4 linked regions of the Homo sapiens genome follow. The protein of the gene in region 2 purifies or fractionates together with the protein of the main gene of each other region. This does not show direct contact. Each region holds a gene or a part of one and is shown on either strand. Other genes may lie near its edges.

Evidence for each region.
Region 1: the proteins of THTPA (region 2) and CLPX purify together in Homo sapiens (affinity purification with mass spectrometry; 3 studies listed by BioGRID and IntAct, with this or other methods). This does not show direct contact.
Region 3: the proteins of THTPA (region 2) and DIMT1 purify together in Homo sapiens (affinity purification with mass spectrometry; 2 studies listed by BioGRID and IntAct, with this or other methods). This does not show direct contact.
Region 4: the proteins of THTPA (region 2) and GTPBP6 purify together in Homo sapiens (affinity purification with mass spectrometry; 2 studies listed by BioGRID and IntAct, with this or other methods). This does not show direct contact.

Annotation. Positions count from the first base shown.
Region 1 is NC_000015.10:65,147,273-65,154,342, reverse strand, and holds the end of CLPX (ATP-dependent clpX-like chaperone, mitochondrial precursor), read left to right. Parts: intron 1-703; coding exon 704-796; intron 797-1,806; coding exon 1,807-1,913; intron 1,914-3,429; coding exon 3,430-3,520; 3' UTR 3,521-6,124; downstream 6,125-7,070. UniProt on the Homo sapiens protein: ATP-dependent chaperone that functions as an unfoldase.
Region 2 is NC_000014.9:23,551,418-23,559,605, forward strand, and holds the start of THTPA (thiamine-triphosphatase), read left to right. Parts: upstream 1-4,853; 5' UTR 4,854-5,340; coding exon 5,341-5,887; intron 5,888-7,277; coding exon 7,278-7,423; 3' UTR 7,424-8,188. UniProt on the Homo sapiens protein: Hydrolase highly specific for thiamine triphosphate (ThTP).
Region 3 is NC_000005.10:62,393,875-62,401,320, reverse strand, and holds part of DIMT1 (dimethyladenosine transferase), read left to right. Parts: intron 1-2,439; coding exon 2,440-2,501; intron 2,502-2,581; coding exon 2,582-2,675; intron 2,676-2,760; coding exon 2,761-2,810; exon of another isoform or gene 2,811-2,892; intron 2,893-6,713; coding exon 6,714-6,837; intron 6,838-7,273; coding exon 7,274-7,366; intron 7,367-7,446. UniProt on the Homo sapiens protein: Specifically dimethylates two adjacent adenosines in the loop of a conserved hairpin near the 3'-end of 18S rRNA in the 40S particle.
Region 4 is NC_000023.11:315,644-323,089, reverse strand, and holds the start of GTPBP6 (putative GTP-binding protein 6), read left to right. Parts: upstream 1-4,293; 5' UTR 4,294-4,302; coding exon 4,303-4,651; intron 4,652-5,605; exon of another isoform or gene 5,606-5,811; intron 5,812-6,038; coding exon 6,039-6,176; intron 6,177-6,184; exon of another isoform or gene 6,185-6,310; intron 6,311-7,446.

The sequences.
Region 1 (7,070 bases), on a different chromosome or scaffold from region 2:
TGTGAACTTTGTGTCTCTAAATATCAGTCTCTTCTTCTCCGTTGCCACTGCCTCAAGTCAAGCCCCTTTGATATTATTCACCTTGACCCATGCATTTAGTTCTTAATTGGTCTGCCTGTCTCATGTCTGTCTGTGACTATCACCAAAATATCATTATCTTCCTCTTTACTTCTGGAATGGATCATTGAGAACAGTGCCCAACAAATAGATATTAAGTTCTTAAATATTTATTGAATGATTAAAGATAAGGCTAATGTTTTTACTCCCTTGCTTAAAATCCTCCGGTGGTTCCCTAGTCTTATTTAGATGTCTCCCCCTTTGCTGCTCCCTTAGCTCCATGTACATACACTGGACTATAAATGCTAGTTTGCTAATCTGTCATCTGTCATCACACAATAGACTGTAAGTTGCTTGGCAAAGATGATGTCTATTCATCATTAAATCCCTAGTATGTAACACACAGAGGTTTAGTAAATGTTGAAAAAAATCCTAGGGAGTCCGTGTTAATCTAGAAAACATCTTCAAGCTTCAGAACAAACTTGGAATTCATAATACTGATACTGTCATGGATTGATAGAAACAAGTGCTTCTTGAAGGCAGGGTTCCAAAACACCATGAGAAATTGTGCCCTCACTTAATGGTACATTTTCTGGTGGTACAAATTAACAATAAAAGTTATAATTTATTTTTAATGTATTTGTAGTGTGAACTGAATGTTACTGAGGATGCTTTGAAAGCTATAGCCAGATTGGCACTAGAACGAAAAACAGGTGCACGAGGCCTTCGGTCCATAATGGTGAGTTGGCATTATTCTATAAAAACAATTATTTCTTGGTCTGAGTTTTGAGTATATTAAGCTTCCCTGTTTTTCTTTTGGAAAATATGTATATATATTTTGAGACAGAGTCTCAAATAAAGGAGTGCAGTGGTGCGATCTTGGCTCACTGCAATCTCCACCTCCCAGGCTGAGGCTCAAGCAGTCTTCCCACCTTAGCCTCCCAAGTAGCTGGAACTATAGGCAAGAACCACCACACCTGGCTAATTTTTGTATTTTTAGTGGAGATGGGGTTTCACCATGTTGGCCAGTCTGGTCTCAAACTCCTAACCTCAGGTGATCTGCCTGCCTCAGCCTCCCAAAGTGCTGGGATTACAGGCGTGAGCCACCACGCCTGGCCTGAATTTTTTTTTTTTTTTAGTCACAGTAGATTATATTTTGCTTTTTCTCAAAAAGGAACTTCAAGGTGTTTGCAACAAAGGACATAGACATAATATGATTAATGACACAGAAAATCGGGATCGGGCCTGGTAACTCACACCTATAAATCCCAACACTTTGGAAGGCCAAGGCAGGAGGATTGCTTGAGCCCAGGAGTTTGAGACCAGCCTGGGCAACATACACCCTCATCTCTCAAAACAAACAAACAAACAAACAAACAAAAAAAAAGAGGCTGGGCATGGTGGCTCATGCCCATAATCCTAGCACTTTGGGAGGCTGAGGCAGGCGGATTGCCTGAGCTCAGGAGTTCAAGACCAGCCTGGACAACATGGCGAAACCCCATCTCTACTAAAAATACAAAAAATTGGCCAGATTTGGTGGCTTACGCCTGTAATCACAGCTATAATCCCAAATATATATATATATATGTTTATATATATAATCCCATATATATGTTTATATATATATATATATTTGTTTTGTTTGTTTCTTTTTCCTTGAGTGAATGGATTCCAATTTGTGATTTATAGAATAAAAGCACTTGTATGTAATCTGTTTTCAATGTGATTCATTACTTTTTATTTCTTTAGGAAAAGCTGTTACTAGAACCAATGTTTGAAGTCCCTAATTCTGATATCGTATGTGTGGAGGTTGACAAAGAAGTAGTAGAAGGAAAAAAGGAACCAGGATACATCCGGTAAAGTGTATTTTCAAGCCAGAACAGATACAAAATTTAAGATGAGCTCCTCATTGCTATGTTTATTGGTTTGTCATTTTAAAATTACATAAAAATTATTATATTTCTAAGGGAAGCAATAATCTCAAGTTTTCTGTAGAAAAATCTAATTTGGGTATTATAAAATAATAGTATTTTGTGAGTCTTTGAAAGTTGATCATCAGGCCGGGTGTGGTGGCTCACACCTGTAATCCCAGCACTTCAGGAGGCCGAGGTGGGCGGATCACGAGGTCAAGAGATAGAGACCATCCTGGCCAACATGGTGAAACTCTGTCTCTACTAAAAATACAAAAATTAGCTGGGCGTGGTGGTGTGCGTCTGTAGTCCCAGCTACTCGGGAGGCTGAGGCAGGAGAATCACTTGAACCTAGGAGGCGGAGGTTGCAATGAGCCAAGATCGCACCACTGCACTCCAGCCTGGGCGACAAAGTGAGACTCAGTCTCAAAAAATATATAAAAAAAGGCAATGGGGCTGGATTTGGCTAGCAAGCTACAGTTTCCTAACCCCTGATTTATTCAATAAATGTTTACTATGCAATGCTTGACATTAATGTTACCTACACAAAAGCTAGGTTTCTGTTTAACTCAAATCATAAGGTATGTTATGTTTTATGTTTGCTTGTGTTCCAAGATAACTTTAGAGGCAGTTGATGTGTTTTGAACAACCTTAGTTATCCAGAGAGATATAATCTTTTATTTTTATTGTTTAATGACATTGACGTATGGCTTTTAAAGGAATTGTGGTGACCTGAATTATCATTTTTACTAGTTCGAGACAAGACGGATGTGATCAGAAATAGCTTCTTTACCATATACATATGCTAAGTTCCAGCATTTGAGTTGAAATAACAGATGATACTTTCTTGGAGAAGAGGATTTTTTAAGCCTTCACAATTGAAGCCATATTGTCCTTTTTTTTTTTTTTTTTTTTTTTTCTCCCAGTAATAAATTTGTCAGGGAAAATGCTGGGAAGTTTATTTGCAACTCTTGGTTGTATAGTCTGTTTCCCATATTACTAAGCAATCTTTTTTTTTTTTTTTTTTTTTTGAGACTCAGTCTTGCTCTGTCGCCCAGACTGGAGTGCAGTGGTATGATTTCGGCTTACTGCAACCTCCACTTCCTGGGTTCAAGCGATTCCCTTGCCTCAGCCTCCTGAGTAGCTGGGACTACAGGTGTGTGCCACCACACCCGGCTAATTTTTGTATTTTTAGTAGAGATGGGGTTTCAACATGTTGGCCAGGCAGGTCTCGAACTCCTGACCTCAAGTGATCAGCCCTCCTCGGCCTTCCAAAATGCTGGGATTACAGATGTGAGCCACTGTGTCCGGCCTAAGCCGTCTTAATATTAAAAGTGCTCCTAATATTTTCTATTATCGTGGCTTTCTTAGCTAGGAGAGGTTACTTTGCTGTTTTGATTTTAAAGATCATGTTTACCTCCATTTTTTATTTTAAAAAAACAAACATGGCTTTTCATTGTAGGGCTCCAACAAAAGAATCCTCTGAAGAGGAGTATGACTCTGGAGTTGAAGAAGAAGGATGGCCCCGCCAAGCAGATGCTGCAAACAGCTAAACTGTCATATTGCTGTCTTGTATATACAGCTTTTCCTTCTTTTGTTTAGGATCATAATTGTCTCTACAGTCTGATATTAAAGGCATTGGATCTATCTTGGATATCATACATGGTCAGAGAAGCCTTTAGGAGAAGAATCAGATCATGTATATAATTGTAACATCACATTGATTTTACGGAAGATGTTATATGGACTTTAATGACACAATGTTTAGAGATAAAATGTACATTATTTTGGTTCAGTTTTTTAAAAAAAATATGCTTTAACAAAATTCTTAGGAATTCTTTTAAGCAATGCAGGTATTGCGATAACTGTAGATTTTACAATAATGTTACTCTACAAATGGGAAAATAAATTCTTTAAAATTGAATATTGAGATACCATTCTTTAGTGTTACCTTTTTTACCCACATGTGTTTCTGAAAATATTGGAATTTTATTCATCTTAAAAATTGGACCAGGTAGGCCGGGCGTGGTGGCTCACGCCTGTAATCCCAGCACTTTGGGAGGCCAAGGCGGGTGGATCACGAGGTCAGGAGTTCAAGACCAGCCTGGCCAAGATGGTGAAACCCCATCTCTACTAAAAATATGAAAAATTAGCTGGGTGCCGTGGCAGGTGCCTGTAATCCCAGCTACTCGGGAGGCTGAGGCAGGAGAATCGCTTGAACTCGGAGGGCAGAGTTTACAGTGAGCTGAGGTTGTGCCACTGCACTCCAGCCTGGGCGACAAAGTGAGACTCCGTCTCAGGGCGAAAACAAAAAATTGGACCAGGTAGTTTTCAAGTAGTTAAACATTTCATTGAAAAATACCCTGAAGAACTATATTTTGATAATTGGTTTAGCTGTATTCCTAGTCTTATCTGCTAATGCATGACACTAACTTCCCAATTGGTTCTGTAAAAAAGGCCATTTTCTTACCAAGTTGTCTGATTTATTTACCATCTTTTTTTTTTTTTTTTTTTTAATTGAGCGGAGTCTCACGCTGTCCCAAGCTGAAGTGCAGTGGTGCGATCTTGGCTCACTGCAACCTCCGCCTCCCAGGTTCAAGCAATTTTCCTGCCTCAGCCTTCCAAGTAGCTGGGATTATAGGCACGCACCACCACACCTGGCTAATTTTTGTATTTTTAGTAGAGACAGGGTTTCACCCTGTTGGCCAGGCTAGTCTGTAACTCCTGACCTTGTGATCTGCTGGCCTCAGCCTCCCAAAGTGCTGGGATTGCAGGCGTAAGCCACCACACCCGGCCTTATTTACCATCTTTAATCCATTTTAGTACTATGGGTGAGTACATGGAATTGAAGTCTGGCTTAAATCTTCAGAAAGTTATATATCTATTTTATTTTATTTTTTTGAGACAGAGTCTCGCTGTGTCACCCAGGCTGGAGTACAGTGCCACAATCTTGGCTCACTGCAACCTCTGAGTCCCAGGTTCAAGCGATACTCATGCCTCAGCCTCCTGAGTAGCTGGGACTACAGGCGTGCACCACCACACCTGGCTAATTTTTTGTATTTTTAGTAGAGACGGGGTTTCGCCATGTTGCCCAGGCTGGTCTCTCCTGAGCTCAGGCAATCGGCCACCTTGGCCTCTGAAAGTGCTAGAATTACGGGCATGAGCCACCGCATCCAGCCAGAAAGATACATATCTAATTCTAGAAATAGCATGCAGTATCAGTCATAGTAACAGCCATGTGCTGACCTAAATAAAATTTCTTGATATTGTGTATTTAACCTGAAGTATTGAGCTAGTTTTTTTGTTTTGTTTTTTGGTGCTGAACATTTTGGTCTAATTCTTTGGCTTCTTAGAACATTTTAAAAAATCTATGTTTTGCTATCAGCCAAAGTAAATGTGTTCACACTAACATATAAGTTACTAACCTTCATTATACAGCAAAGCTAAAAAGTGGTGGGATATTTGGGGTCTTAATGAAAATTGTATCATTTAATTCCATAAATATTAAAATATTTGGGTACCTTTTAAGCTTTTTTTCTTTCCTTCTATAATGGTGGTACAAGTTCTATATTCATTCAGTTTAATCTCATTTGAAATTGTTTAAATCAGAGTACATGTAAATATTTGTGGGTTTTTTTTTTTGGTTTATAGACTCGAGCTTTCCTTTTACACAGTTTTTTTTAGGGAAAAACTAAAGCTATTAGGAAATTCTAAATCTTGTTGATGAAGAGTTGGGCTTTCTTTGATATAATTAATAAAAGGGATGTATGGTATTTATGGCTGGGTAGGACCAGAAATGCACTTTGTATTACAGAGTGTTAAGGCTGGTTGCTATAGTATGGAACAGAAACACCTCTCCTTGGTCTCCCTAGTAATGGTTCAAGTTCTTCCCAGGAAGTCTTACATATTATAACTTTGTTCATTATCTTTCCCTTATAGCATCATTTTCCTTTTTGTAGAGTGGAAATCAGACTAGCTGCTAAACATATTAAGGTTAATCCTCCAGAAATGTACTGGGGAGGCATTTTAGTCACAACAACTTACATTTGGCTTTGGAAGTTGTTAACAAAGCATAGTCGATGTTTTTAAATCAAACATAATTTGTATCTTGGAACTTACATTTTGACATTTGAATAAAACAAAAAGACTAAATGAAAGCCAACGTGGTGGTGTGTCCATACAGCAATGGTGCAGGAGCACTCTGCATTGACAACAACAAGCACAGCCAAACAGTGCCATTTTTAAAAGGGCACAGATGTCATATGAGCTGCTTCATTCTAGGGATTGATTAATCCTTGGCACTTCCATATCAGATAAATTCTAGCTGTAGATTCCACAGACAATGTCTGTTAAACATTTATCAAAAATCCTTACTTAAATGTCCCGCTTGACACTAGGGACACAGGCCAAGTTTTTCAGGAATCTTACTAGTCTTGTAGGGGAAACAAATACAAACTAAAGTGTATTTTAATAGTGGAAGTGAGATAGGTACCAGGTGTGGTGACATAGAAAGTGATGGCCTAGATAAGTCTGGAAGAACAAGTAGAAATTTGCCAGAAAAGAATAATGAGAACTAAATCAAAATCTCAGAAGTGTAAAACAACAACTAGGAAGCTGTAGGAGGTAAGAAATAAGCAACAACTGTAACTTCTTGTTAATACTCTGAAATGACCATTTAATATTCTCCTCTCCATCTAGCTAAGGATCTTGCTTCACATTTCATTGAAAAACCATTGATGGAATTCATCATCCCACCATCTATAAATCTATCTACTCCATCACTCAACCTTTCTCTCTAGTTACAACTGAAGTATCCCTCCTACAAAACTCAGTCACTCCCCACATGCTCTGGGTCTCATCATCCCCTCTCATTTCTCAAGGCCTTTAATTCTTTTGATCATGTCTCTACTATAGTATCTGTGTCCTTCCTTCTGAATTATTCCCAGTGGCATCCAAACACTGCTTAGTATTTCCTGTCCTATAGCAAATCTCCCAAGCTTATTTACGTATCTTTCCAACTACACCATAAGTTCCACAAAGATGGTGACCCAGCCTGTTTTGTTAACTATAACCAGCACCTACCATAGTGCTACATACATCTGG
Region 2 (8,188 bases):
TCTTGGAAGGGACTTCTCCGATGTGTTGATTCCTCTTTTTTCCCCTCCTCCTCCCTCCCTCCAGCGCTCGCTCCGGGGCGTCAGGGACGGAGACGGAAAAAAATAAATAAATAAATTCACGGCGGTGAGGGAAGTGAAGGAAAATAATCAATGCTATTTGGCTGCGGCTGAAGTGTTTCCCCGGCTTCGTGAGGGGGTTTCCATTGATTCACCCTGGGCACTCGCTCGCTCCCTGCCTCCTCCTCCTCCTCCTCCTTCTCCTCCTCGCCCTCCTCCTCCTCCTCCTCCTCGCCCTCACTCCTCCGCCTCATTCACTGGCTGGAGTCTAGGCGTCCCACACAATGGAATAATCAATACCCAGGCGCCCGGGGCTGCCCCACTGAGCAGGTGCAGCGACCCGCCCGCCGCGGCGCATGCCGGGAGTTGTAGTCTGTTCGCGCCCGCCCGCCTGCCTCGCGGGACCCAGGGCCGGGGGCAGGCCGGCCAGCCCACCAGGTCGCCTCCAGGTTCAAGCCGGTGCCTGCAAAGAGGGCAGGCCCCTTTAAACTCTTTTCCGTCTCCTCTCCTCTTCATCCTGTGGCCTGCAGAAACCATACATGTGTTTTGTTGTTTTGTTTTAAATCAGCTTCAGAACAAGCCCTGAGCCGCCCAAGGCCTCCTTTTTTCATTCTCTTCTTCCTGCCTTATTATTCCGCCTCCCCCATCTCCCCCCGCGAAATTGGGTACTAGAACCTTCTCTACCGCAGCAATTACTCTTTAGTCTCTGAGAGCTTCTGCCTCCTCCACACGGTTACATAGTCCCCTGAGCTGGGTTGGGGGAGGTTCGGGCTCCTCCTCATCTTCAGTTTATCGCTTATTAAGTGCTCCTGAATTTTTTTTTTTTTTTTTTTTCTGGAGACGGAGTCTCACTCAGTCGCCCAGGTTGGAGTGCAGTGGTGCGATCTCGGCTCACTGCAACCTCCACCACCGGGTTCAAGCGATTCTCCTACCTCAGCCTCCTAAGTAGCTGGGATTACAGGCATGCATCAACACACCCAGCTAATTTTTGTATTTTTAGTAGAGACGGGGTTTCACCACGTTGGTCAAGCTGGTCTCGAACTCCTGACCTTGTGATCCGCCTGCCTCGGCCTCCCAAAGTGCTGGGATTACAGGTGTGAACCACCACCGCGCCCAGCCCGTTTTTTTGTTTGTTTGTTTTTTTCTTGAGACAGAGTCACTCTGTCGCCCAGGCTGCAGTGCAGTGGCATGATCCCGGCTCACTGCAACCTTCACCTCCCAGGTTCAAGTGATTCTCCTGCCTCAGCCTCCCAAGTAGCTGGGATTGTAGGTGCCCACCACCATGCCCTGCTAATTTTGTATTTTTAGTAGAGACGGGGGTTTCACCATCTTAGCCAGGCTGGTCTCGAACTCCTGACCTCAGGTGATCCACCGGCCTCAGCCTCCCAAAGTCCTGGGATTATAGGGGTGATCCACCTCACCCGGCCGCTCCTGTATTCTAATAATAATTTTTAAGATTTCTTGAATGCACAGGGACAGTTCCAAGCACTTTTACATACATTGTTTACTCCTCTCAATACCTCAAGCATGAGGTAGATGCTATTATAGTCTCATTTATTGAGGAAACTAAGGCACAAACAAGTGAATTAACAGGCCCAAGGTCCAATGGCCAATAAGTAAGTGACAGTGCCAGGACTCAAAAACCTCCATGGTCTGGCTCCAGGGCCCATACTAACTGCTATAGCCTACTTCTCTTAAACAACACAACAAAACCCTGAAGTTCACATGACAAAAAGGAGAGATAAATGAACATTTTGAGTTTATACTATGTGACAGTTTATGACTGAATCCTCACAGGTAACTGTGAGGCAGGCCACATTTTCTCAATGAAAAAGCAGAGGCTGGCCGGGCATGGTGGCTCACTCCTGTAATCCCAGCACTTTGGGAGGCTGAGGTGGGTAGATCACCTGAGGTCAGGAGTTCGAGACCAGCCTGACCAACATGGTGAAACCCTGTCTCTACTAAAAATACAAAATTAGCTGGGCGTGGTGGTGGGCACCTGTAATCCCAGCTACTCGGGAGGCTGAGGCAGAAGAATCGCTTGAACCCGGGGGGCAGAGGTTGCGGTGAGCCAAGATCACACCATTGCACTCCAGCCTGGGCAACAAGAGTGAAACTCCGTCTCAAAACCAAAAACAGGCCGGGCGTGGTGGCTCACACCTGTAATCCCAGCACTTTGGGAGGTGGAGGCGGGTGGATCACAAGATCAGGAGATCGAGACCATCCTGACTAACAGGGTAAAACCCCATCTCTACTAAAATTACAAAAAATTAGCCGGGCATGGTGGTGGGCACCTGTAGTCCCATCTACTTGGGAGGCTGAGGCAGGAGAATGGCATGAACCCTGGAGGCGGAGCTTGCAGTGAGCCGAGATGGCGCCACTACACTCCAGCCTGGGCGACAAAGCGAGACTCCGTCTCAAACAAACAAACAAACAAAAATTAGGAGGGTGGGGTGGCACGTGCCTGTAGTCCCAACTACTCAGGAGGCTGAGGCGGGAGAATCATTTGAACCCAGGAGGCAGAGGTTGCAGTGAGCTGAGACGCCAGAGTGAGACTCTGTCTCAAAAAAAAAAAAAAAAAAAAAAAAAAAGCAGATGCTTAGGAAAGTGGAGTAGCTTGCGGAAGGCCAAACATCTAGAAAGTGAAGCTGGGAGTCGACCTCAGGTCTGGCTCCGGAAACTGGTCTTTCTGTTCAAATAAGCTGCTGCTTTTGCCCCACTGGATTGGATCTTATAACATAAGGAAAAATTAGGTCTTCATCCCAGGTTAACAAAACCGGAAAGCAAAAGATGGATGAAAAGCAGGCTTTAGGAGCTGGGGTTTCTTCTCTCCCTAACCAACAGTGCTTAACATGGAGTGGGGACAGAGGTTGACCCAAGCTACTCCAAGTTCAAGATGCCATTTGTTTATTTATTTATGCACAGGGTCTTGCTCTGTTGCCGAGGCTGGAGTGCAGGCAGTAGCAGGATCGTAGCTCACTGCCCTTGACCTCCTGGGCTCAAGCTATCCCGCTGCCTCAACCTCCTGAGCAGCTGGGACCACAGGCATGCACTACCACACCCGGCTAATTAAAATTTTTTTTTTTTTTTTTTTGTAGAAACAGGGTCTTCCTATGTTGCCCAGGCTGGTCTCAAACTCCTGGCCTCAAATGATCCTCCTGCCTCGACCTCCCAAAGTGCTAGGATTACAAGTGTGAGTCAACACACCTGGCCAAAATGCCATGTCTTTAAACCAGTGTCCTTCTCCCTATAATACCTCTCACTGGTCATGTATTTCCAGAAACATACTGGTGAGAGGGCAGGTGTTGAGAACATGGCACTTCTCACCCATCATAGGAAGGAGTCCAGGAGTTAAGAGCCACGGTTCCTCAGGGAGCTTCCTCACATGGAAGGTCAGACATATAGTTAGAGTCTCCAGATAACCATAGTCCTCAGAGGGAGTAAGAAGGAATCATCTCTATTAATATTTTGTCTCCCAAAGCATTCAAAGGGCCAACCCCCATGTTTTCCTGAATTTTATTTTTTTGGGGACAGATGGAGTCTCGTTCTGTCGCCCAGGCTGGAGTGCAGTGGCGCCATCTCAGCTCACTGCAACCTCTGCCTCCCAGGTTCAAGCAATTCTCATGCCTCAGCCTCTGGAGTAGCTGGGAACACAAGCACGCGCCACCATGCCCGGCTCATTTTTGCATTTTTAGTAGAGACGGCGGGCCGGGGGGGTTTCTCCATGTTGGCCAGGCTGGTCTCGAACTCCTGACCTCAGGTGATTCACCTGCCTCGGCTTCCCAAAGTGCTGGGATTGCAGGTGTGAGCAACCGCACCGGCCTTTCTGTATTCTAAATGAACATAAGTAGTTCTACACCTGACAAAAACTGCTTAGGGACCGCTGGAAACTCTGACAAACTCCTCAGTCTAGCACTCAAGGCTTTTCCCTCAACTGCATTTCTAGCCTCGTCTTCTCCTTACGTACCACCCAGGTGCTCTCCAGTTTCTGGGCCTTTGCTTAGGCTATTCCTGTCTCCATCTAGGTCTCCAACTGTTGAAATACCATCATATCTTTAGTTCCTGGCCAAAATACCACTTTATTCTCTGACAGAAAGTTTCTCACCCACTCTTACCCTCAACGTTCATGCCAGGAGGTATTAGATCCCCTCTAAAACTCCAGAGTAGCTAAACTGGACTTTATTACGCGCTGCCCCCGCCCCCTTCCCTCCCCCCACCCCAACCCCCCTCGCCACCATTGCCACTGGCCTGCGCTTAGCTGGCTGCTATAGCAGATATCTGTTGGACGGTGTGAATGGCTTGTATTCCAGGCCCATCTGCCTGCGTTGGGGGTGCGGCGGGGGGTGTTGGAGACGGGACTGGGGCTTGAGCTCCTTGCACCCGACTCTCCCCGCCGCCTTGTAGCCCCAGTTCAGCTTTAGGTAGAGTACCGCAGGCACCAAGTGCAGCTTTCCTGTCGCCATAGCGACGGGCGGGGCGAGATGGCAAAGTCTCCCTTTGGAACTACATCTCCCATCATGCATCCGCGCCTCGGGGTGCCTGGCTCAGCCTCAGGCATGAGACCTGTACCAGCCCCCGGGAGCCGTGCGGGGCCAACAATGAGGAGCAGAATGCAAGGGGCGGCCTCGCTCCCCTGGCCACCGCGGGGGTCGCGGCCTCCCATTACATAGCGCGTGTCTCGAGCCCTGGCCTGCTCTCGGCACCGCCACAACGGGCGTAATATGGCCGCTGGTGCCGGGACCTGCCGGGCGCGCGGAGGGTCGGGCCGAGGTCCGGGATCCGGAACTGCTCCCGGCATTCCTCGCGAGTGTATGGCGTGGGCTCCCTTCCCCCTCTGTGGGTCCCGCGAGGAGACTCTCGGGCTTTGAGGTGAGACCTGAAGTTCCGCTGGCCGGTAGTGTAGCAGGAAAGGGCAGGTCCTCCCGGGTCGTGAGCCAGTAGCCTCCTGGGGTGGCAAGGTGTAGAGAGGGGGGCGTTGAAAGGACACCCGCTACCCGGCCTGCTTTCTAGGGGTCTCTTTGGATTGAGGACATCAGCAGCAGTGGAAGGGATTTTACTGGAGACCTGTCACTGTCAGAGCCTTAAAATATCACCGACGGGGCCTTAATGTCACCGAGGTAGAGAGAAAAGGGCAGTAGCCCTAGAGACTATTGCGACACAGTGTGCCCCTCATAAGTTTTTCCAGGGAGGGGTTCTGTACTGAGTTGACGCCCCAGGAGCTGAGCACCAGGCTTTGCATCCTTGGGAACTCAGCAAACGTTTGTTCAGCCAATTGCAGGTAGCATGGCCCAGGGCTTGATTGAGGTGGAGCGAAAGTTCCTTCCAGGGCCTGGCACAGAGGAGCGGCTGCAGGAGTTGGGGGGCACCCTGGAGTACCGGGTCACCTTCCGAGACACCTACTATGACACCCCTGAGCTGAGCCTCATGCAGGCTGACCACTGGCTGCGACGACGAGAGGATAGTGGATGGGAGCTCAAATGTCCTGGAGCAGCAGGTGTCTTAGGACCCCACACGGAGTATAAGGAACTCACAGCGGAACCTACAATTGTGGCCCAACTCTGTAAGGTGCTGCGGGCTGACGGCCTGGGGGCTGGAGATGTGGCTGCTGTGCTGGGCCCACTGGGGCTGCAGGAAGTAGCTAGTTTTGTGACTAAGCGGAGTGCCTGGAAGCTGGTGCTCTTGGGAGCTGATGAAGAGGAGCCACAGCTCAGGGTGGACTTGGATACAGCCGACTTTGGCTACGCTGTGGGTGAGGTAGAGGCCCTGGTGCATGAGGAGGCTGAAGTACCAACTGCCCTAGAGAAGATCCACAGGCTCAGCAGCATGCTTGGTGAGGGAGACAGGCCCTTTTGTGCTTTTCCTGCTCCCCACTTTTCTCTTTTGGAGGCACCTGCTGGACCATGCAGTGGGGGAGGGCCTCCGGATTAAAAATTTTTTTTTTAATAGAGACAAGGTTTTGCCGTGTTGCCCAGGCTGGTCTGGAACTCCTGGACTCAAGCAATTTGCCTGCCTCGGCCTTCCAAAGTGCTGGGATTACAGGTGTGAGCCTCTGTGCCTGGCCTGGATTATTTTTGTAATGGGAATTGTTTTAGCAATTTTCTAAGTTTGCTTACAGTTCTGTGAAATCTCGTTTTCTCTTTAACAGTAGCTAATTTGGATCTAGTCCTTCCACGTGTCTAATTCCAGCCAACCTGCCTCATTTAGTTCTCATACCTATAGCCAGATCTCCTTCAGTTTCATTTCTCAGTTCCCTGCTTTGACTCTTCCTTCCCCCAATCTCTTTTTTTTCTTCTTCTTCAGTCACCACTCCTCCACAAGGAGTAAAAAGTAAGCCTTTTTACAAAAGCTGCCCTCTGGGAGGCTCAGACCCAGGATCTTCAGATCATGAGACTGATGCACTGCCCACTACACTGAGAGTCCAACCAGTCTTGTCCTTTTGTTTTACAATTACCTAGATCCTTTTAATTTGTCCTTTTGGCTTTTTGTAAAGGACAATAACATTATAGTTATGTGAGACAGTGGGGCATGATTTGGCAGATTTGTTCCTAAGCATAATTCCCTTGTAGACAGTTCATCCACACTAGGAATTGTGCATCCCATGGGGCCTTACAGCCCTGCAGTGCTGTTTGAGCCCCCTCAGCAAACATACACTGAGTTCCTTGCTATGTGCCCAGCATGCTGCCAGGCACTAACAACAAGACACTGGCAACAGGCAGTTCCATTCTCACCTCACCATGTAGAGGCGAGAATTCTATGTGAATCCCACCCCATGGCTATAGCTTCCCTCCTCTTCTTTCTATAGCTCTTGGTTTCTATGTGTACATCTCTGCATGTGCTTCATTACTAAGCTAATGAGCTTTGGCCTGGTCTAGGGCTTTAATCTTGATTGCGGAACAGGGTAATAACTGAAATGAGCTGACGCTGAGGCATCCTTCGTTTATCTTGGTGCCTGGGTGCCTCTTCGCCATTTCTCCTTGCTGGAGGAGAGAGGCTGAGGTGTGGCTTCTAGTCCCACTCTTGCCTGAAGTTGCTCTTTTAGGTCCCACTTCCACAGGCAGGCAGGGAGTGGACTAGTGTGTTACAGAAGCTGGGTGGGTGACATTCAGAACCCCAGTGTGGCTTTGGAAACATCCACGGAGTCCTGGCTAGGTGGGCAGGGAGCAGAGTCCAAGTGCTTGTGGCTCTGTCCATTTCTCTCCTCATTGTCCTTTTACCTGTAGGTGTGCCTGCACAGGAGACAGCACCAGCCAAGCTGATTGTGTATCTACAGCGTTTCCGGCCTCAAGACTATCAGCGCCTGCTAGAAGTGAACAGCTCCAGAGAGAGGCCACAGGAGACTGAAGATCCTGACCACTGCCTGGGCTAGGGGTGTCACTTCCTAGAAGGGGAAGGGAACTCTGGGTCTAACGGAGTCCACTCCTGGGCCCACTGTGCCTCTCCCCTCAGTGTCCCTTCTGACAGTGACTCCTCTCTCTCCAGCGCTGCCTGTTTCTTCCCCCTCCTCTAAGCTACTCTTCCTTGAGCCCTCCCTGGCTGCTTCCTCTCGCTCATCCGTCAGATGCAATCTGTGGGCCGCCCCTCTCCCCTGGCCGCTAAGCAGCCTCCATTGATTTCCGCTCGTGTTTATAGGATTTCCACTTAGCCGTGATCAGTAGTTAAGCACAGGAAAATCCCTTGCCACCCCCCCTCCCTTGGTCGATGCCATTGATTCTGCCAGCGGCTCCTAAACCGCCTTACAGCTGAGTTAGAAGATGAGGAGAGGCAGCAGGGATTTCCCTGCCTTGGGATGTGGGAAACAGAAGAAAAGTTGAGGAAATGGTTGGGAATCGCTGTTAGAACTCTAGAAATTCTAATCTGACTTTGCCACTGTGCCCAGCTCTGGCCCAGAGGGTAGAGTGCCTCCTGTGGAAGTTTAGGGGCAAATTTGTTCCCTGACCTGGAGAGGGTTAGAAAGAACCAACAGCTGCCCCCTCCCCGCCCCCGTGTTGAGACAGGTTCTCAAGGCTCAGGGGAAGATGCATACCTCCTATGTAAGAATGCTCTTCCCTTGCTGTTATTCATACACACTTTCCACTTCAAATATACCCAAATATGGCTTTCCTCACTTCTCAGGCTTTATTGGGCTTTATTT
Region 3 (7,446 bases), on a different chromosome or scaffold from region 2:
TTTCACCATGTTGGCCACACTGGTCTTAAACTCCTGACCTCAGGTGATCCGCCAACTTTGGCTTCCCAAAGTGCTGGGATTACAGGCATGAACCACCATGCCCAGCCTCAACAGGGAGTTTAATTAGGAAGGAAATACCCAACGCCTCCCCTTTGTACCCTATAATGCTGGTGCCTTTCACTGGCCAATTCCAACCAGAAGTTGAAAGGTAAGGGAGCTGAACTGCATTATCTGTAGGATGCAGAGAAAAGCGGATAATAGATCTGGGAGGGCCTTTCATGGTGGCTCACACCTGTAATCCCAGCACTTTGGGAGGCTAAGGCGGGTGGATGGCTTGAGCCTAGGAGTTGAAGACCAGCCTGGGCAACATGGTGAAACCCCATCTCTACAAAAAATTGGCTGGGCATGGTGGTGCCTGACTGTAGCCCTGGCTAGCAGGGAGGCTGAGGTGGGAGGTTTACCTGAGCCTGGGAAGTTGAGGCTCCAGTGAGCCATGATCCTGCCACTTCACTACAGCCTGGGTGACACAGTGAGACCCTGTCTCAAAAAATAAAAATAAAACTAAAGATAGATCTGGGAGCCAAACAGAGTAAGAAACACATTGTTTACCATGTAAACAGGGTCTATATAGAAGTAGGGCCAGGAGCTGTGGCCCACATCTGTAATCCCAGCACTTTGGGAGGCTGAGGCAGGAAGATTGCTTAAAGCTATGAGCTTGAGACCAGCCTGGGCAACAAAGCGAGACCCAATCTCTATAAAAAATAAAAAGGCTGGGCATGGTGCCTCCCGCCTATAATCCCAGCACTTTGGGAGGCCAAGGTGGGAGGATTGTTTGAGCCCAGGAGTTTTGAGACCAGCCCGGGCAACATAGAGAGACCCGTCTCTATTAAAAATAAAGAAAGGAAATTAGCCTGGTGTGCTGGTACACACCTGTGGTCCCAGCTGCACAGGAAGGTGAGGTGGGAGGATCCCATGAGCCCAAGACTTCGAGGCAGCAGTGAGCTATGATAGCGCCACTTCACTCCAGCCTGGGCAACAGAGTGAGACCCCATCTCTTAAAAAAAATTATTTTTTAATAAAAATAAAGTCAGTGAAACCTCAGCTGAAATTGCAATAAAATTTCAATTTCGGCCTTATTTGACATCCATTTTCATTTACTTGAGAAGTTATCTATGCCATGTATTGTGTATCTCAGTAGATGTGACATACTAACAGTAAGAGCAATTGCATTGTACGCTCTTCTCTAACAACACTGACTGCAGAGACATGTAGTGTATTTTTTTCATCATCTGTTGAATTACAAAGCATGGAGACAGATGAAACATGATTCTATTGATTATATGAGTAGAACTCTCACATAATCTGGTTGTCTACTTTTCTGGGTGGTGGTGTTTGTTTGTTTGTTTGTTTGTTTTTGAGATGGAGTCTCGCTCTGTTGCCAGGCTGGAGTGCTGTGGCGCGATCTCGGCTCACTGCAACCTCTGACTCCCTGGTTCAAACAATTCTCCTGCTTCAGCCTCCTGAGTAGCTGGGATTACAGGCACGTGCCGCCACGCCCAGATAATTTTTGAATTTGTTAGTAGAGACAGAGTTTTACCATGTTGGCCAGGCTGGTCTCAGTCTCCTGAACTCATGATCCGCCCACCTCAGCCTCACACCCGGCTTTTTTTTTTTTTTGAGATGGAGTCTCACTTTGTCACCCAGGCTGGAATGCAGTGGCACAGTCTTGGCTCATGGCAACCTCCGCCTCCAGGGTTCAAGCAATTCTCCTGCCTCAGCCTCCTGAGTAGCTGGGATTACAGGCGCCCACCACTAGGCCCAGCTAATATTTTGTGTTGTTTTTGTTTTTGTTTTGAGACAAGAGTCTCTGTCTCTTGCCCAAGCTGGAGTGCAATGGTGCGATCTCGACTCACTGCAACCTCTGCCTCCCAGTTTCAAGCAATTCTCCTGCCTCAGCCTCCCGAGTAGCTGGGATTACAGATGCCCATCACTGTACCCAGCTAAATTTGTATTTTTAGTAGAGACGGGGTTTCGCCATGTTGGCCAGGCTGGTTTCGAACTCCTGACCTCAGGTGATCTGCCTGTCTCAGCCTCCCAAAGTGTTGGGATTACAGGCGTGAGCCACTGCACCTGGCCTAATATTTTGTATTTTTAGTAGAGATGGGGTTTCACCATGTTGGCCAGGCTGGCCTTTAACTCCTGACCTCATGATTCGCCCACCCCAGCCTTCCAAAGTGCTGGGATTACAGGCGTGAGCCACTGCACCCGGCCCATTTTTGTTTGTTGTTTGAAGTATGCGAGTATAATTAAAGGAATATTGATGGTAGAAATGGGAGAAGAAGTTTGTCACATAAATCATGTAAGAGTTCCTGTTGGGATAACAATAAAAGATTTATATTCCATAATTAACCTAAATAATTTTTATTTTTTTTAAATTAGGTTGTTGCTTGTGAACTTGACCCAAGGCTAGTAGCTGAACTTCACAAAAGAGTTCAGGGCACGTGAGTATACATAATAGAATTAAAGTGCATTTCAATCTCATGAAACAACATTCTTTTTACATTTCTTCTTTTCTCATCAGGCCTGTGGCCAGCAAACTTCAAGTACTGGTGGGTGATGTGCTGAAAACAGATTTGCCATTCTTTGATACTTGTGTGGCAAATTTGCCTTATCAGGTATGTCCTCACATTTTCAGGAACATCATACTAACTGTTCCTCTGATGTGTCTTTCCCGGAAATAACTAGTTAATTCTCTTACAGATCTCTTCACCTTTTGTCTTCAAGCTGTTGCTACATCGACCTTTTTTCAGGTTTGTGACAAAAGACTAGAGTTACTGCCAAATTTTGAAAGACTTACAGTTCAGGTGGTGAACATAGCCAAAAATGAGTCAGGTCAGTTGAAAAACTACTGAAGAATTTTTGTAGAAAATGTTGATTTGTATGGAGGTCTTTCTCTCTTTAATTGAGAGGTTATTTGGGGGTAGTGTGCTGGAAGTCCTGCTTCTGAGACCAGACAGCCTTTCCCTATTTTTGAATCTTCCTGCCGTTAAGTCTAGGTTAGAATTTTTATTACCTTATGTCTAGACAATTGCAGTGGTTTCCTAACTGGTCTCTAGTATAAGAGGTCTTCAAAAAGTTCATGGAAAATGTGTATTATGAAAAAAACTTGCATGGATTTCAAAATTTTTTTGCACCAAAATAAACTCTGTACTAACTGAGCAGGATCTAGTGTGAGGCACTGAGAAGGATAAGACATCAGTTTGAAAAGAGCCCCTATCAGAGCAACATGAACTCTGCTAAAATTCAAGTAAGAACAAACATCCAATTTATGGTGAAACCTGGTTGGAAGAATGGTGAAATCATTGATGCTTTACAAAAAGTTTATGGAGTCACACCTGTAATCCCAGCACTTTGGGAGGCCAAGGCAGGCGGATCATGAGGTCAGGAGATCGAGACCATCCTGGCTAACATGGTGAAACCCCACATCTACTAAAAATACAAAAAACTAGCCGGGCGTAGTGGCGGGCGCCTGTAGTCCCAGCCACTCGGGAGGCTGAGGCAGGAGAATGGCGTGAACCCGGGAGGCGGAGCTTGCAGTGAGCCGAGATCGCGCCACTGCACTCCAGCCTTGGCGACTGAGCGAGACTCCGTCTCAAAAAAAAAAAAAAGTTTATGGGGACAATATCCCAAAGAAATCAGCAGTTTACTAATGGATAACTCATTTTAAGAAGGGCTGAGACAATGTTGAAGATGAAGCCTACAGTGGCACACTGGCCATATCAATTTGTGGGAAAACATTCATCTTGTTTGTTCCCTAAGTGACGAGGAACAACATTCAACAGCACAAACAATAGCCAACACCATAGACATCACAGTTGGTTTAGCTTACACAATTCTGACTGCAAAATCAAAGTTAAACAAACTTTGTACTTGATAGATGCCAAAACTGTCATACCCTCTTTTCTGAAAGATTTTATGAAAAAACAAAACAAAAAACATTGTACTCAAATCAGCTGCAGATAAAAGCAGAGCTTCCAGTGGAAATTTTACATAACTGGGATCAAGATCCTGAAACATGGCTGGGTGGAGTGGCTCACACCTATAATCCTAGCACTCTGGGAGGCCGAGGCGGGCAGATCACTTGAGGTCAGGAGACCAGCCTGGCTAACATGGTGAAACCCCATCTCTACTAAAAATAAAAAAATTAGCTGGGCATTGTGGTGGGCACCTATAATCCCAGCTACTCGGGAGGCTGAGGCAGGGGAATCGCTTGAACTCAGGAGGCGGAGGTTGTAGTGAGCCAAGATTGTGCCACTGCACTCCACACTCCAGCCTGGGCAACAGAGCGAGATTGTCAAAAAAGAAAACAAGATCCTGAAACATTTCTTCAAAGAATTACAAAGAATTGTAATGGAGATGAAATATGGCTTTACCAGTGTGATCCTAAAGACAAAGCAGAGTGAAAGTGATGCCTACCAAGAAACGGAGTGGCTCCAGTCAAAGCAAAAGCAGACCAGTCAAGAGCAAAGGTCATAGCAACAGTTTTTTTTTGAATGCTCAGGGCATTTTGCTTGCTGACTTTCTTTAGGACCAAAGAATGAAAACATCTGCTTATTACAAGAGTGTTTTGAGAAAGTTAGCTAAGATGTAGCAGAGTAACTCCTGGGAAAGCTTCCCCAGAGATTCCTCCACCATAATACTTCTACTCCTTCCTCTCATCAGACGAGGGCAATTTTTCGAGAGTTTCAATGGGAAATGGTTAGGTATCCACCTTACAGTCCTGATTGGGCCCCTTCTGACTTCTTTTTATTTTATGAGACAGTCTTGCTCTGGTGCCCGGGCTGGAGAGCAGTGGTATGATCTGCACTCACTGCAGCCTCCACTTCCTGGGCTCAAGCATTCCTCCCACCTCAGCCTCCCAAGTAGCTGCGATTACGGGCATGTGCCACCACACCCAGCTAATTGTTGTATTTTTTTTAGAGATGGGTCTTGCCATGTTGCCCAGGCTGTCTCCCCCTCCTGAGCTCAAGTGATCTGCCCACCTCAGCCTCCCCAAATGCTGGGATTATTACAGGCATGAACCATGGTGCCCAGCCCTTCTGATTTATTTTCGTTTCCCAGTCTTAAAAAATCTTGAAAGGGCACTCTTTTTTCTTCAGTTAATAATGTAAAAAAAAAAAACCTGCAGTGACATGGCTAAATTCCCCAGAGCCTCAGTTTTTTTGATATAGACTAAAATGCTGGTATCATCACTTACAAAAGTGTCTTGAACTTGATGGAGCTTATGTTGAATAATAAAGTTTATGTTTTTTCTTTTTTTTCTTTTTCTGAGACAGGCTGGAGTACAGTGGTGACATCTCAGGTCACTGCAACCTCAGCCTCCCTGGGCTGGGCTCAGATGATTCTCCTACCTCAGCCTCTTGAGTAGCTGGGACTATGGGGGTGTACCAGCATGCCTAGCTAATTTTTGTGTTTTTTTTAGAGAAGGGGTCTCACCATGTTCAGCCCAGGCTGGTCTTGAACTCCTGAGCTCAAGCGATCTGTCCGCCTTGGCCTCCTAAAGTGCTGTGGATTATAGGTGTGTGCCGCCACACCAGCCTTATTTTATCTTTTAATTCAATATTTCCATGAACTTTGAAGTCACTTTCTATATTATATACTAGTGGCTTTCAAACTGCAAGTCAAAAACTAGTGGTTATAAAATTAATGAGTCATGACCATTCTTTTTTTTTGTAATCACATGGAATAGAATATATCACAGGGCATTGCATGTAGTCCAGGTGATTATGGTTTCATGAAACTTTTGTTTTGAAATACAATATAAACACATATACATACAGACATTTGTGGCTTGGCTTGCAATGCCAAATGTATTTTTAGTGTGACTCATTGTCAAAAGTTTGAATGTCAAAGTGTAGCTTTGAAGATACTCTTCTGTTCGTTAACCCCTACAAAGTCTTCCCCATTGCCTGCTGAATAAAAAGTCTACATCTTTTGGCTGGGTGTGGTGACTCATGCCTGTAATCCCAGCACTTTGGGAGGCTGAGGTGGGCGGATCACCTGAGGTCAGGAGTTCCAGACCAGCCTGGCCAACATGGTGAAACACTGTCTCTACTAAAAATAGAAAAATTGGCCAGGGGTGGTAGTGTGCGCCTGTAATCCCAGCTACTCGGGAGGCTGAGGAACGAGGATCACTTGAACCTGGGAGACGGAAGTTGTAGTGAGCCGAGATTGCGCCATTGCACTCCAGCCTGGGCGACAAGAGCGAAACTCCGTCTCAAAAAAAAAAAAAAAGTCTACATCTTTTAACCCGTCAAATCAAGGAAACATTGAACGTCACAATCTGCCTCTTCAGTCTCACCTCTTCCTTAAAGGTGTTTGCTACCCCATAAATATATTACTGCTACTGAAACAATTTTATTTCACTTTGTTTTCATAGAAGAGGTGATGGACTAGTGCTGATTTGAAACATCTCATCCAGTCATTAAAGGCTTATATTTGCAAGCTATCTTGCCATGAGGAGTACAGCAATTATAAAAACAAAGCCAGCTCTCTCATTCTGTGGCAATAAAAAAAAGGCTGAATGTGTTCTCCTACCTTATAATCAGCTGCCAATGCTTTGCTATTTCTCTCCCAAGAAAATTCATTGCAGTTAAAATTCATTTATAGTTGACAATGACCATTTTCCTTATTCCTTTCTGCTTTCTTTTCAGGTGTGCTATACTTATGTTTCAAAGAGAATTTGCCCTCCGACTGGTTGCAAAACCTGGAGATAAGTTATACTGCAGACTCTCAATTAATACACAGCTGTTGGCACGTGTGGACCATCTAATGAAAGTAAGTGAATTTTGTTTTCTTTCTCTTTTTTCTGAGATAGAATCTCACTCTGTCACCCAGGCTGCAGTGCAGTGGCTCACTGCGATCTCTGCCTCCCATACTCAAGCAATCTTCTCGAGTCCCGAGTAGCTGGGACTAGAGGTGTGCGTCACCACGCCTGACTAATTTTTTGGTATTTTTTGTAGACACAGAGTTTTGCTATGTTGCCCAGGTTGGTCTTGAACTCCTGGGCTCAATGATCCATCTGCCTTGGCCTCCCAAAGTGTTGGGATTACAGGTGTGAGCCAAAGCACCCAGCCAGTGATTTTTATTATTGAAATAATCTAGCTTAATTCATCCTTGAGCATCCAGTTGTGCCTTCTGTGAGGATAGCATATCTGGTTACTAAATAAAAGTTGCCTTTGTGAGTACTACTTAAATACTTTTTCATTAACAGGTGGGAAAGAATAACTTCAGACCACCGCCCAAGGTGGAATCCAGTGTTGTAAGGATAGAACCTAAGAATCCACCACCACCCATCAATTTTCAGGTGAGGTTAAAATACTAGCTCATTCAATAAAGGAAAAAAAAGTCCAGGCGGGAAGATGTGTGCCTATAACAGCAGAAAAA
Region 4 (7,446 bases), on a different chromosome or scaffold from region 2:
GCGATCCTCCCACCTCAGCCTCCCGAGTAGCTGGGACCACAGAAGGTCCATCCCACACCCCCACCCCACCGTCAAGCTCTCGCTTTAGGGCCCAGGCTGGAGTGCAGTGGTACAATCTCAGCTCCCAGGCTGGAGTGCAGTGGTACAATCTCAGCTCACTGCAACCTCCACCTCCCAGGTTCAAGCAATTCTCCTACCTCAGCCTCTGGAGTAGCTGGGACTACAGGTGTGTGCCACCACGCCCGGCTAATTTTTGCACATTTAGTAGAGTCAGTGTTTCTCCATGTTGGCCAGGCTGGTCTCAAATGCCTGACCTCAGGTGATCCACCCACCTCGGCCTCCCAAAGTGCTGGAATGACAGGCGTGAGCCACCGTGCCTGATCTCAGACACCTTTTGGTGCTTCTTGTTTGAGATGGGGTCTCACTCTGTCACCCAGGCTGGAGCACAGTGCTGCAATCTAAGCTCACTGCAGCCTCCACCTCCTGGGCTCAGGTGATCCTCCCACCTCAGCGTCCCGAGCAGCTGGGACCACAGGCACCCACCACCACACCAGGCTAATTTTTCTTTCTTTCTTTCTTTTTTTTTTTTTTTGTAGATAATAGGGTCTTACCATATTGCCCATGCTGGCGTCAAACTCCTGGGCTCAAGCAATCCTCCCACCTCAGCGTCCCGAGCAGCTGGGACCACAGGCACCCACCACCACACCAGGCTAATTTTTCTTTCTTTTTTTTTTTTTTTTTTTTTTTTTGTAGATAATAGGGTCTTACCATATTGCCCATGCTGGCGTCAAACTCCTGGGCTCAAGCAATCCTCCCACCTCAGCGTCCCGAGCAGCTGGGACCACAGGCACCCACCACCACGCCCGGCTTTTCTTTTTTTTTTTTTTTTTTGTAGATAATGGGGTCTTACCATATTGCCCATGCTGGTGTCAAACTCCTGGGCTCAAGCAATCCTCCCACCTCAGCGTCCCGAGCAGCTGGGACCACAGGCACCCACCACCACACCAGGCTAATTTTTCTTTCTTTTTTTTTTTTTTTTTTTTTTGTAGATAATAGGGTCTTACCATATTGCCCATGCTGGCGTCAAACTCCTGGGCTCAAGCAATCCTCCCACCTCAGCGTCCCGAGCAGCTGGGACCACAGGCACCCACCACCACACCAGGCTAATTTTTCTTTCTTTTTTTTTTTTTTTTTTTTTGTAGATAATAGGGTCTTACCATATTGCCCATGCTGGTGTCAAACTCCTGGGCTCAAGCAATCCTCCCACCTCAGCGTCCCGAGCAGCTGGGACCACAGGCACCCACCACCACGCCCGGCTTTTCTTTTTTTTTTTTTTTTGTAGATAATGGGGTCTTACCATATTGCCCATGCTGGTGTCAAACTCCTGGGCTCAAGCAATCCTCCCACCTCAGCGTCCCGAGCAGCTGGGACCACAGGCACCCACCACCACGCCCGGCTTTTCTTTTTTTTTTTTTTTTGTAGATAATGGGGTCTTACCATATTGCCCATGCTGGTGTCAAACTCCTGGGCTCAAGCAATCCTCCCACCTCAGCGTCCCGAGCAGCTGGGACCACAGGCACCCACCACCACGCCCGGCTTTTCTTTTTTTTTTTTTTTTTTGTAGATAATGGGGTCTTACCATATTGCCCATGCTGGTGTCAAACTCCTGGGCTCAAGCAATCCTCCCACCTCAGCGTCCCGAGCAGCTGGGACCACAGGCACCCACCACCACGCCCGGCTAATTTTTCTTTTCTTTTTTTTTTTTTTTTTTTGTAGATAATGGGGTCTTACCATATTGCCCATGCTGGTGTCAAACTCCTGGGCTCAAGCAATCCTCCCACCTCAGCGTCCCGAGTAGCTGGGACCACAGGCACCCACCACCATGCCACACTAAAATTTTTTTTTTGGGGGGGAGGGTAGAGAAGGGGTCTTACCATGTTGCCCAGGCTGGTGTCAAACTCCTGGGCTCAAGCGATCCTCCCACCTCAGCCTCCCGACATGTAAACGGTGGCTACATTTCCGCACAATCCCCGCGGTCTCCCTCATTCTGTTTTACAACTACTCCCACATAAAGTAACGTAGAAAGACGAGCCCCGTTATTCCCTTAGAAGGTAGACTGGAGCTTGCAGGAAGCTGTAGGATAAACATTCAGAGGCCAACTGAGATAAAACGAAACACCCAGGTGATTTTAAGCTAATCAAGAGCCCCTTTCACGTGGGTGATTTTAAACTAATCAAGAGCCTCTTTCACGCAGGTGATTTTAAACTAATCACGTTCTCCCTTCACAGAACTAAAAAGGGAGGTTAATTTACACAAACGCGCAGGCTACAGCCACCCGTCCTGCCTAGGGACTTCGGGCCAAAAATGCCACCTGTCACACCTCCAATCCAGGCGCTGCAGGGCTGTTAGGAGGGGAATTAGCAGCTGGGATACCCCGATCCTACAAGGAGGGGGGTTAGCAACCCCTCCTGAAATACCAAAAAGGCCTCGGCTTCCTGCAGACGCTTAAGGAACATGCCAATCACAACCGATTTCCTGAAAAACGCAAGAAATCCTGGTGAGGGCTGGGGTTGCAGGACGCTCTGCACACCACGGGTAACAGTTTTGGGGTAGCTTCTCTGAGACCGGCTGCCTCTTACTGTCCCCTGGACCAGGGGGGCGCCGCTCTCATCCTCCTGGCATCTCCCAGGCCCCTGCCCCACTCAGAGCTCCACCGCAGGGGCTCCCGAGGCTGGACTCAGACCCGCTGGATCCCATCCAGGCCCCCAAGGCAGCAGTGGAGACCCTCAAGGCTGGACTCCAGCCCCTAATGTAGACTCAGGGACCCCTGGGATGGATGGGTTCGAACCCCCAAAGCTGACTTCAGGACCCTCAGAGCTGGACTCCACCCTCCAAGGCAGCATTCGGGACCCTCACGGCTGGACTCGAGGCCCACGGCAGACATGAAGACCCCTGGGAGGCGTCCGGGACCCCCAGGACTGAATTTGAGGCCCCCAGGCAGACGTGGGGGCCCCTGGGCGGTGGTCAGGACGCCTGGGGCTGGACCCAACCCCCAAGGCAGACGAGGAGAACCCCCGGGCGGCATCCGGGCCCCCCAGGGCTGGACTCAAGCCCCCAAGGCTAGACGTGGGGACCCACCTGGGCGGCGACCGGGACCCCCAGAGCAGGTCTCAAGCCCCAAAGGCAGACGTGGGGGCTCCTCGGCGACGTCCAGGACCCCCAGGGCTGGACTCAAGCCCCCAAGGCTAGACACGGTGACTCCGGGGTGGCGTCCGAGACTCCCACGGGGGAACTCCAGTCTCCAAGGTAGACGTGAGGACCCCCGGGCGGCATCGGGGACCCCCAGGGCGGGACTCGAGCCCCCAAGGCAGACGCGGGGATGCCGAGGCGGCGTCCAGGACCCCCAGGGCGGGACTCGGGCCCCCAAGGCAGACGCGGGGACGCCGAGGCGGCGTCCAGGACCCCCATGGCTGGACTCGAGCCCCCAAAGCAGACATGGGGACCCCCTGGGTGGCGTCCGGGACCCTGAGAGCTGGACTCGAGCCCCCAGGGCAGACGTGGGGACTCCGGGGCAGCTTCCGGGGCCCCCACGGCGGCTCTCCAGGTTCCAGGGCAGACGTGGAGACCCCTGGGCGACGTCACGGACGCCCAGGGCGGGACTCGAGCCCCCAAGGCAGACGTAGGGACCCCTGGGCGCCGTTCTCGATCCCCGGGGCTGGAGTCAAGCCCCCGAGGCGGCGTTCCGGACTCTCGCAATCAGACTTGGACTCCACCCAGCGCGGAACGGGGTAGGACGGGAGCGAGGACGAGGTGAGTGAAGGCAGCGCTGCCGCCGCCGCCGCCGCCGCCGAGGCTCGGGGTCCTGGCGCCTACCGGGCCGGCGGCTGCACCGCGGGATGGGTCTGCCAGGAGCCGCCCACGCCGAACAAGAAGCGGCCCGGTCCCGCCTCCCCCGCCGGCAGCGCGTGCCAATCACCAGCACCTGATGCGGGGCGACCAATGAGGAGCACGCCCTGCCGGGGCGCGGCGCTAGGGAGCCCGCCCCGGCCGCACGCCAATCACCAGCACGTGACAAGGGATGACCAATGAGGATCACGCCCTATGCTGCGGAGAGGCGCTGGTGAGCACGCCCCAGCTGCACGCCAATCACTAGCACGTGACGCCGGATGACCAATGAGGAGCACGGCCTGTGCCGGGGAGAGGCGCTGGTGAGCCAGCCCCGGCCGCACGCCAATCACGAGCACGTGATGAGGAGCGGCCTGTGGGCAGCCCCCGCCCCAACGTTCAGCCTCCAGACGCGCCATGTGGGCCCTGCGGGCCGCCGTACGCCCGGGGCTGCGGCTCTCCCGCGTGGGCCGCGGCCGCTCGGCTCCGCGGGCAGCCGCGCCGTCCTGCCCCGCGCGCGCGCTAGCCGCTGTCGGCCGCAGGAGCCCCGGGAATCTGGAGGGGCCGTGGGGCGGAGGGCGGGGCCTGCGGGCGGACGGCGGCCGAAGCCGCACGGGAGACGACGAGGAGGAGCCGGAAGATGCGGACGAGAACGCCGAGGAGGAGCTGCTGCGGGGAGAGCCTCTGCTGCCGGCGGGGACCCAGCGCGTGTGTCTGGTTCACCCTGACGTCAAGTGGGGCCCGGGGAAGTCGCAGATGACTCGAGGTGACCGCGGCAGGGCTTTCGGGGGAGAAACAGGAGCTGGAGACCTGGGGGCGGGGCTCTGAGGGGAGGGGGCTCATAGGTGGAGATTCAGGGGCGGGGCTCTGAAGGGACGATCTCATAGGTGGAGATTCAGGGGCGGGGTTCTGTGGGGAGAATCTCATAGGTGGAGGCGCAAGGGCGGGGCTCTGCAGGAAGGATTTCATAGGTGGAGATTCAGGGGCGGGACTCGGGAGAATCATAGCTGGCGATGCAAGGGCGGGGCTCTGGGGAGGCTCATAGGTAGAGATTCAGGGACGGGGCTCTGACCTGAGAATCTCATAGGTGGAGACCCAGGGCGGGGCTTTGAGGGGAAGAGCTCAGGTGGCGACGTAGGGGCGGGGCTTCAGGGGGCCAGGCTCTAAGGAGAGGGTCTGATGGTTGGAGATGCCAGGGCGTGGCGCTGAGGGGCGGGGCTCTGAGGGGAAGAGCTTATGGATGGTGATGCGGGGGCGGGGCTCTGAAGGGAGGATCTCATAGGTGGAGGTGCATGGGTGGGGTTCGGGGGAGGAGCCCATGGGTGAAAGGGCGGGGCTTATGGGGAAGAGGGGAGGATATCATTGGTGGAGGTGCGTGGGCGGGGCTTCGGGGGAGGGGCCTATGGGGTAAAAGTGCGGGGGCGGAGCTTATGGGGTGGAGTCCGTGGGATGGGGTGGGGCCCGTGGGGTCCGTGGGGTGGGGTGGGGTGGGGTGGGGTGGGGTGGGGTTGGGTGGGCCGGGGCGGTTCTCGCCGATGGGACCTACGTTTCTCTTGCTCTGGGTTAGAGGTAGGCACGGTGTGTTTGAGGTCAGGGAAGGGAGGGCGTCCAGCGGACCAATCTGTGTCTAGTCCCACCCCCCACCCCCCAGGAGGAAATGCAAATGAATAAGTCGCTGCACGTGTCAGAGTCTCATAAAGGTTGATTTTTCCCTTGGAAGCTCCTGTAGTCGATGAGTGGTTTTTCTTTACGGGTGTTTTCCAAAATGGCTAATTCCTGGAACAGATGAAGCCCCGAACTGCTCAGAACAGCGCGCAGACCTCTTGCCTCTCTACTCCCCAAACCTGCCGGTGGTTCCTCAGTAATCCCCTGAGCACCCGCAGCTCCCGGGTTCCCTGCTGCGCCCGCCTGGAGCCCAAATTCCATGTAAGGCAGGGTCGCCCTCGTGTCCCGCTGTGGCTCCGGTGTCCTTCTCCCGTCAGATTCCTACTTAGAGGCCCTGGGGGGACGAAGTCATATCGGGGGACAAACGGCGGCTCAAGGTGCCTTCTCCGGGGAGATTGTCTCAAGGGCAGGAGGAGGCCTCCCCGGGCAGGTGTGGACGGGGGCCCCGGGCAGAAGCGTCTCTCACGGTGGCCCTTGTGTCCCCGCAGCCGAGTGGCAGGTGGCGGAGGCCACAGCGCTGGTGCACACGCTGGACGGCTGGTCCGTGGTGCAGACAATGGTCGTGTCCACCAAAACGCCGGACAGGAAGCTCATCTTTGGCAAAGGGAACTTTGAGCACCTGACAGGTGGGTCCGTCCAGACCTGCTCCTTCCCCAAACCTCCTTTCCTGTCCGCCGCTACCGAAAACATCCAACCGAGACATGCTGAAGTACGGGGGTCTTGCGGGGCCAGAGGGGAAGCGGCCTCTCGGATTGCCCAGGTGAGCTGGGAGCACACGCCAGTAGGAGTCGGAGGACGGTGAGGCTTTATCTGTGTCGAGATTCACACCGGGCCCTGGAGAGACTTAAACTGGTAAAGATTAGGTCGGGGCAGTTTATAGAGTCCAACAAACAGGGTAGGCGGTGGACCGGCTGTAACCCCACCTGCCCCTGCAGGCCCCAGCCAAATCCTCCTCCTGGGTGACCCCCACCCCACCAGCAGTCTCTTAGGGTGGGGTCCAGCATGCGATCCTTGCGCTTCCCAGGTTTCTGACCATCCCGCTTCCAGTAGAGTTGGGAAGACGCTACTCACTTGCCCAGGTGGGGGTCGGCTGCCCTGGGTCACCTGCCCAGGTGGGGGTCAGCTTTCCTGCCTGACTCAGATGCATCTCACCCCTGCTGGGATGTGTTCACCCTGTGTGTGTGTGTGTGTGTGTGTGTCCCCAATGGGATGTGTCCACGGTGCATGTGTGTGTGTGTCTGTCCCTGTCGGGATGTATTTACTGTGTGTGTGTCTGTGTGTGTGTCTGCGTGTGTATGTGTTTGTGTCCCTGCTGGGATGTGTTTACTGTGTTTGTGTGTGTCTCTGTGTATGTGTCTGTGTGTGTGTCTGTCCCTGTCGGGATGTATTTACTGTGTGTGTGTGTGTGTGTGTCTGCGTGTGTATGTGTTTGTGTCCCTGCCGGGATGTGTTTACTGTGTTTGTGTGTGTCTCTGTGTATGTGTCTGTGTGTGTGTCTGTCCCTGTCGGGATGTATTTACTGTGTGTGTGTGTGTGTGTCTGCGTGTGTATGTGTTTGTGTCCCTGCCGGGATGTGTTTACTGTGTTTGTGTGTGTCTCTGTGTATGTGTCTGTGTGTGTGTCTGTCCCTGTCGGGATGTATTTACTGTGTGTGTGTGTGTGTGTCTGCATGTGTATGTGTTTGTGTCCCTGCCGGGATGTGTTTACTGTGTGTGTGTGTGTGTGTCTGCGTGTGTATGTGTTTGTGTCCCTGCTGGGATGTGTTTACTGTGTTTGTGTGTGTCTCTGTGTATGTGTCTGTGTGTGTGTCTGTCCCTGTCGGGATGTATTTACTGTGTGTGTGTGTGTGTGTGTATGTGTTTGTGTCCCTGCCGGGATGTGTTTACTGTGTTTGTG